Regions from separate parts of the Homo sapiens genome. Here region 2 is linked to region 1. The links come from fine-mapping of genetic effects on gene expression. A gene starts in region 1. The other region holds a variant in brackets. All regions are shown on one strand. Distances are from middle to middle. Region 1 holds the start of TGM5 (transglutaminase 5). Region 2 overlaps TGM7 (transglutaminase 7).

The links. PIP is the estimated chance that this variant, and not a neighbour inherited with it, causes the effect. A credible set is the group of variants that fine-mapping cannot tell apart.
Region 2: its variant is the best candidate, but not a certain one, in a credible set for the expression of TGM5 in monocytes (Quach 2016, PIP 0.51).

What each region holds. Positions count from the first base shown.
Region 1 is chr15:43,264,675-43,269,198 of GRCh38, forward strand. It overlaps TGM5 (transglutaminase 5), which reads right to left and starts at 2,254. Exons shown (of 13, transcript NM_201631.4): 1 at 2,166-2,254. The coding sequence starts at 2,175. It also overlaps the pseudogene ATP5PDP1.
Region 2 is chr15:43,292,661-43,296,660 of GRCh38, forward strand. It overlaps TGM7 (transglutaminase 7), which reads right to left. Exons shown (of 13, transcript NM_052955.3): 2 at 789-971; 3 at 49-294. Among named protein-coding and RNA genes, the nearest start is that of TGM7, 7.6 kb to the right of the region's middle. The variant T/A (reference allele first, on the strand shown) is at 2,049.

The DNA.
Region 1 (4,524 bases):
TCTGAAACTAGATAGTGGCGATACTCGCAAAATTTTGTGAGTATATGAAAAACCACTGAATTGTGGACTTTATAAAGCTGAACTTGATGGTATATGAATTATATCTCAATAAAAGTTGTTATAAACAAATATGAACCAAATTGACTGTGCCAAAATACCCTAATAAGTATTACACTTTATGTTAAATCTCTTTGAGTGCTTTTGATTACTTTAACACACATCTGTTTCATAAACTAGTTTTTTATTATTATAAAAGAAATTAAGCATAATGATCAGCATATTGTAGGTACTCAGATTTGCTAGGTTGAATAGAATTCTCTATCTTTTGCAAAATCACCCTGTACGTATTTCAGATTTCAGATTTAATCAACATCTTATTGAGGGCCTATCTACTATGTGCCAGGCACTGTGCCAGGTACGCTAGGACAGTTATCTCATTTAATCTTCATCGCATCCTTGCAGGGACAAAATGTCATGTCATCCACACTTGGAGATGAGAAAATCAAGGTTCAGGTGGGTTAAATATCTCGTCTAAGGTTAAACCAGGATTCCTGAGCCCAGTCCAGTGCTCTTCCCATCACCCCCAAGAGCTGTTGCCCACTGTTGGCTTTCACTCATGATCAAAAAAATGTCCACACCCACTGCCAGCTAAGAAAGCACTTGGCTTTTACCTAACAGTGGAAAAAGAAGCTTGCCCCCTTTGGAGACCAATTTATTAGACAGCACTAACTGGCTACAGTTCAGGTTGGGCACATGACGCAGGCTACTCAGCAGGCATGGCAGCATCTGCCTGGCAGCAAGCGCTGGGACAAAATTCCATCCTCTAGAGACATCCTGGGCCATGTTAATCTCTGCCTAAGACAGGAATGACTCTTCAGCCCAGGTGCCATCTATTCAAATAGGAGGTTCATTGACTACTGGGCATATTTGTTTTCCTTGAGGTGAGAGGAGAATGGGGTGAGATGATCAGGAAATAAACAGAAGACTGTAGAAAGAACTTTTAAAGTAAGTGATCTTAGTAGTTATCCTAGAGAGACACTCCCACGTGAGCACACAGAGGCATGGATAAGTATGTTCCTTGCAATATTGCTTGTGTAACCGGAAAATTGAAAACAACCTAAATGCCCATCAATAGGGGACAGGATTAGAAATTACTTGCACTGATACTATGAGAAATATTGAGGTAGATCTATAGGTACTGACTGGCATGGACAGAGCTCCCAGACATACTGTGGAGTGAAAAAAATCAAGTTGTAGAAATATACATACAATATGATGATACCATGGATATACCAAAAAAGACCACACATGCTAATCCTATGTATTACATTGAGTAAATGTATGTCTGAGTGTAAATGTGCAGACAAAAGACAGGTAACAGTGTTTACTCTGGAGATGAGGCTGCCATTGGGGATGGCGGGCAGAGGACTATAGCTTTATCTATAATTATTTATTTATTTTACTCCAACTATGTATTCCCATATTTCTTGTGCAATTAAAAGTTATGAAAATTTTAAAACAAAAATTTAAACACAAAAAGTAATAAATAAAGGTAAGGTTGTTACAGTTGTAGAGGAAGTTGAAAGCTTATTCCTCTAAATGATTTCAACTAACGATTTAATCTTCACAGCAACTCTTTCCAGAGTGAGGGGGATGATATAGAGAGAAGGTTGGTGATGGGAAGATTAGCTAAGATCAGTAATAGACCTTCTGAAATGGAGGAAGAAGAGAAGATATGAAGATTCAGAGAACTTAAGAGCTGGAAGACAATTTCAAGATTGTCTGGTCCAATCCCTCCTTTTTCAGGCAAGGGGGTTGGAAACTAGAGGCGAAGTGACTTGTCCAATGTCAAAGGGTCAGCTAGTAGCAGAGAAGGACAGAAACCCTGACCCCCTCATCTCTGGCCCTGCCCTGTCCCACCTGGCTATGGAGGCAGGCATGTTAGCAAGCAGCTGTGTGCTGTGTTTACCTGTCTGCCTCTACGCTGTCTCCTGGTTCTCAAGCCACCAATGAATACTGAGGTTTCTGGGATTCTTGCTTTTCCTGCCTCAGTTCTGTATTTACTTCTTTATTTCTCTGAATCCACCCTCCACCCCTTGACTTCCTACAGTCTCTCTCTGTCCTTCTTATCCCTGAACTCCAGTGGCCACAGGGGCTTTCCCTACCTTGGGCCATGGTAGCTGCCTCCGGTTCCTGGGATGCTCCCCACAGAACAGCTGGGCGGTCTGGAGCTTCAGCAAACTGGTGCCAGAGTGTCTACTTCCCCTTCCATTGGAAGCCTCCAGGAGAACCGAAGGCGGGGCTGGACTGCTGCACTGCCACCTGATTACCGAGCAGATCACAACTGGTTTGCTCACTTGCCCTCAGGTTTTTCTTGGCAGTGTTGCTGAATTGAAAGGAGGTGTGGAGGCTGATGAACTGTCACAGCCTTATGCCGTGTGGGCCTTTGATAGCTCTTGAGCAATAGGGCATTCCCAGGGAGGTGCTGTGCTGTGGTGGAGAAGTCAGGAGGGAGAAGCGAGCTGATGGGCCCGCCAGAGGGATGCAGGGGGCTGCTGGAAGGAGCATCAGGGTCCCAAGACTCTGCTCACAGCTTAAAGCACCTCATTGAGCCGAGAACCCTGCTAGGTAACCAAGGCCTCTCTTTTATCCTGAAAAGTCACTTCCTGAACATTAAATGCAAACAGAACCCTCTCTGTCTGGATCTCCTTCGGTATGATTTCACTGTATTTAGCTTTGGCAGTGGCATTGTCTTGCATGAGACCTGGCAGGTCCAAGACAAATCACAAATAAAAGCAAATAATCACAAATAAAATAGAGGAAGAAAAATTGGGAAGATTTGTGGAGGAGGTGTGGAAATAGGTGAGAGGGTGGGAATGCCGGTGAGCAAGGGCCTTGATCCTAGTAAGAAAGGCACAAGCCCTTTCATAGGGAGAAAAGCGCAGGTGGAAGGAGAGAGAGGGCAGGAGGGGGAAGGGCTCTGCCTGTGGAGTGGGTGGGACCCCCATGCCTACCCTGTCTTTCTGTGCTCTGGGGCACTTCTCCCCACATCCCCTGCTTTCTGGGTCCTTCTCCCTGGGGAACCTCTTTCACCAGCATTGTCCTCCCTCCTGTATTTTCAATTCTCTCTGTCCCCACTCAGCTCTTTTTTAAAACCTATGTAATTATTTTTATTTTTAATGTCCAGAATGTGTACTATAAGGGCCAGGGCTTCTTCCTGGACTTAATTTTATAAATTCTTGATTGGTTGGTGAGACCAATAGCGATACTTTTTCTTGTCTAATTTGGTTTCCGGGAAAGCTTCGTTCAAGTCGTCAATGGTCATCTGATCAAATGGTATTAAGTTCCTCATCTTCTCCAGCTGTTTCTCATATTCTCCAACCTGGCCTTTGAGAGAGACACCCACTCAGCACAAGTTTTCCCATCTTCTTTTTCTTCAGCATCCACCTGGGCAGTATATTTATCCTCTGGTACAGGAAGCTTCAGGACATTAAACTTCTTCTCAAAGTCATCCACCAAGCCTGCCTTGGCCACATTGGCCTTGTAGTAAGTCCAGTCAATAGCTGGTGGATTCTCAGGTAAAGTAGCCAGCCTGGAGGTGAGGGTCTCATTCCAGGATTTCAGATAATTAGCAATGGCCTTTTGGTTTTGGGGTATCATCTCTGCAAAAGCTACCCAGTCAATGGTTTTTAGAGCAAGTTTTCACCCAGCCATCTTGGTATACTTCACTGACCATGGCAGCCCATGGCCCACACCCCACTCACCTCTTATAGGGTATATGTGCACAAATGCAGTTCACTATTTTAACACAGCACATCCACCTTCAACTCTCATCCCCAGCTTCCCTAGCAGCCCCTGCCCTTTCTCTCAACTCCACTTCTCAGCCAAGCTCCTTGCCCACTGCTTTGCCTCCCACCACCCCTCACCTGCTGCAGACTGCCTTCTGTCCCACGGCTGCCTCGACGCCACGCTCACCTCCCAGCTCTGAGGGCTGGGCTCTGGGCGCCTTTCCTGCTCTTACCCTGCAAGGCCTCCTGCAGCCCTGCGGGTACTGTCCACTCCTCCTGGGCTTAGGTGACTTCTCTCTCTTGGTTGTCTAGCTGCCTCCTTATCCCCACTGTCCTCTTCCTCTCAGTCCCCATCACAGACTTTCCCTTCTTGAACTGGTGCCTCCCAGGGATTTGTCCCCATCTCCTCTCTTCTCACTCCACTGGCTCCCGCGTGACACTGGGGACCCCCAGAACTGTGTACTGCGGCACCCTCTGCTGGACAGCTCCTCTGGGGGAAACCTTGGACACTTCACAGCCAAGGAGTCCAAATGGAACTCTTCCCCTTGCTCCTTCCTCTCAAAATACCTGCCCTTCCTCTTGCACGTCTGGTCTTGATGAGTGAGGACACTGTCCATCCATCACTTCAGGGGACACCTGCGTGCCACCTTGTACTTCTCCAGCTTCCTGATCTCCCTTTAGCCCATCAGTCCAGCCCAATTCCTGATGCTGTCCTGAAACGGTGCCCCCCTTGCTC
Region 2 (4,000 bases), 28 kb after region 1:
CCTTCCCAATGGATCAGGTTAGCAATACAAGCTGTGGGCACATCCTACCTGGACTCCAAGGGTTAAAAAGTAGGATGAAAGTTCCCAGCGGGTAAGTCACACTGTGACCTTGGCCCTGAGAGATCTCTATTTTCAGAGTGTAATGGCCAATAACTGCATTGGCTGGTGTGAAAAGGGAAACTTGGAGAGAGTTGGAGTCAATGGTGAAATCAGAAGCGCTCCAGACATTCCCGGGCTGGACCCGGGTGAGGAAGAATGTGGCTCGGGTCCCCAGCAGCTCTGACGGCTTGGGTCCTGTGTAGGAGAGAATGACCCCACAGTGAGGCTCAAAAAACCTGTATGGTATATGATTCCAGGGGAGTCGGAAGGACCGTCACCTTCTCCCACCACCTGCTAATGCTTTTGGCTTTTACTGCCACCGAGTGTCCTCAGGCAAACCATTTAAGACCCCCAGGCCTCCGTTTTTTAATCTGTTAAAAGGGGATCATAATAGTACCACCTGAAAGTCTTGTCCTGGGGATTAAATGAGCTAATGTGTGTAAAGTTTTAGCACAGTGCTTGTTGTGTATCTACAGGTCGGTTGTTAACTGCCACAACCTCAGTTTGCCGAGTTGACCAAATCTCTCCTTAACAGCACTAACAGGGTCCTGAGCATGAGGGGTCTGGGGCTCCCAGGACAAGAAAGTGGAGGGCAGCTCAGGTGGGAAAGGCAGGGGCCCCGCAGGCAGACTCTGTAAATGCCCTCATTTTGACGGAACCTGCGGGGCCTTGGGACAGGGCAAACTCACCGGTCTCAGCCACAAAGGTGATGTGGTCGTTCTGGGACTGGAAGGGTCGGCTGAAGCTCAGCCGGAGGTAGAAGGGCTGGCCGCGGCGCACAGTGAGCCGCTTGACGCCCATCTCCTGCGTGTGGTGCTCCTTGTTGTTCCTGGAGCTCTGCAGGTCGACAGACTCAAGCCGCAAGGTTGCCACTAGGGGAGAGGAGGGGACAGGTCACGCCCACCTGCAGTCCCCTGGGCTCAGGCATCCCTTGTGGCTTCTCAGTCATTTCTGGGAGGTGCGGCGGGTGGTGGGGCGTGCGGGGGGTAGGTGGGGCGTGCGGGGGGGGAGGTGGGGTGTGCGGGGGGGGCGTGCGGGTGTGTGTGTGCGGGGGCGTGGGGTGTGCTGGGGAGGGTGGGGTGTGCGGGGGGGTGGGGTGTGCTGGGGAGGGTGGGGTGTGCGGGGGTGGGGTGGGGTGTGCGGGGGGCTGTGCGGGGGGAGTGGGGTGTGCGGGGGGATCGGCATGGGGAAGTGTTGATACTGGTGAATTCCATGTCTGGACCTGGAGCCACAATGATCAAGGATTGGGGTCCCCAAAAGGGAAACAATTCCAGATAACCGAAACTTAACCCCTGAAGTGCCGCTGCATGCTCTTAACTATTTGTTGACAATCTTTCTAAAAGTCACCCTTTTATCCTACTGATATAAGAATAAACATACTAGGATTTTGTATGAATTAAGTCAGTGAGCTGACTGGAAGCTGGGACTTCAGCCATAGGGCAAGTCCCTGCTTTGGAATTCTGGACACTCTCTGGGTCACTTGTAACTTACTTCTGACTTCTCAGCCATTTCCAGGTCTATGAGGAGGGCACTGCCTGCTTCCTGTGTGTGCACACCTGGTACATGGTTGTAAAACTCTCATAGCACAGTAGGCAGTGGGCAGGTTCTGGACTGACACAGCCTCAGGTCTATCATCTGGGCTGTGAGACCTCGAGCAAGTCACTTAATATCCCTAGACATCAGTGTCCTCATCTGAAAAATGGAGACAATTGTATTCCTACCTTATAGGGTTCATGTGGGCGTTAAGTGAGGATGCCCATGGAAGGACCTTGGCGTTGTGCCAGGTACAGAGTAAGGAGTCAATATTAGTTACTCTTACTGGTAGGAATCATGCGTTCTTGAATTGCATTTCTTTTGCGACCTTTGCTGGCAATGTTTAGATTGCATTTACTGTCGACAAAAGTTCATCAGGTCTTTCCTCTAGTAGTACATCAGTTTATCTCAGTGGT[T/A]CTCAACGGGAAATTCCGTGCCCTGGAGGACATTTGGCAATGTCTGAAGACATTTTTTACTGGGAAGAGAGGCTGCTAAGCAGCATCCTAAAGGAAAAACTCATATTTGCTCCCAGCCAGTTTTTGTGCCATTTGTATTTTGAACTTCCACAGAGGTTCTTAATGTTTTTGCATCTTTCCTACCTATCTTGATCCTTTTTTTTTTTTGGAGACAGGGTCTCACTCTGCAGCCCGGCTGGAGTGCAATGGCATGCTCCTGGCTCACTGCAGCCTCAGCCTTCATTCTGGGCTCAAGTGATCCTCCCATCTCAGCTTCACAAGTATGTTGGACCACAGTTATGGGCTACCATGCCCTACAGTATTTTTTTTGTATTTTGTAGAGACAGCATCTCCCTATGTTGCCCAGGTTGATAGATTCTGATTTTTTGACCCAAATATTTTACTTTTCCATCTCTAGACTGGCTAAACTGTCTTCCAGTCTTCATCTAAGTAATCAGTAATAAGATGTTTCTAAGCATTAGAGCCTAAGTTGGTGGCCAGTTGTGTATCATCAGCTCTTTCTTCCATGTTAACACTGAGCCATTAAGAAATACTCTTTGGGGCTGGGCACCATGGCTCACGCCTGTAATCCCAGCACTTTGGGAGGCCAAGAAGGGTGAATCACTTGAGGTCAGGAGTTCGAGACCAACCTGGCCAACATGGTGAAACCCTGCATCTACTAAAATACAAAAATTAGCCAGGCCTGGTGGTGAGTGCCTGTGATCCCAGCTTCTTGGGAGGCTGAGGCGGGAGAATTGCCTGAGCCCAGGAGGTAGAGGTTGCAGTGAGCCAGGATTGCCCCATTGCACTCCAGCCTGGGTGACAGAGCAACTCCATCTCAAAAAAACATAGAACTAGAAAAAAAACTCTTTGGGCATAGCTGTTCAACTGCTTTAACTACATCTAATCTTTGAATAAAGCTGAAGTCAATGTTAATTTCCTTCACAATCTAAAATCAAATCCAGTTTTCATCTTTTCCATAAATGTGTCAAATGTCTGGCTAAAAACAGAATATGCATAAGGATCCCTTGATCTGTCTCTTAACAACAATCTTTTGTAAGGTAGATTCAACAAAGGTGAATTACTGGATCAATTGGTACAAAGTTGTTAAACCTCTTGATGTGTTGGGGCACTTAAATAGATATGTTATTGGAACCAGAAAATTTAGAGAAAGATCTAAGACAGATCCCTTTTAATCATTCAACAGCAGTTTTTAAACTTCAGTTCCAACTCATTTAGTAGTTTGTGAAATCAATTTAGAGAGAGGTAGCCTGTAATAAGAAAATGGAATGGAATAGAAAACATACAATGCATCACACATAGGAAGAACAAGGACAATTTTATGTGTAGCTAGGTCATGATATAAATCATAGATCATAGTTAAAAGTCAGAAAGCAGCCGGGTGAGGTGGCTCACGCCTGTAATCCCAGCACTTTGGGAGGCCAAGGCGGGCAGATCACGAGGTCAGGAGATTGAGACCATCCTGGCTAACATGGTGAAACCCCTTCTCTACTAAAGATACAAAAAATTAGCCGGGCGTGGTGGCGGGCACCTGTAATCTCAGCTACTCAGGAGGCTGAGGCAGGAGAATGGCGTGAACCCGGGAGGCAGAGGTTGCAGTGAGCCGAGGTCACACCACTGCACTCCAGCCTGGGTGACAGAGCGAGACTCTGTCTCAAAAAAAAAAAAAAAAAAAAAGTCAGAGAGCAGCTGGCCTCAATCTGGTTGGGAACTGGTTGCTTCTCATTTGTTCCTAAGGGGCCTAAAGTTTTCATAGCAGGACCACTGAGCCTTCACAGAAAGCCTCTCCGTCCCATACACAACTCCCACCCTGAATGATCATAGATCCAAAAGAGACAGGGACACACAGGAGGGAACAGGACTCAGGGTAGCCTTTTCCTGGCTGCTGTTTG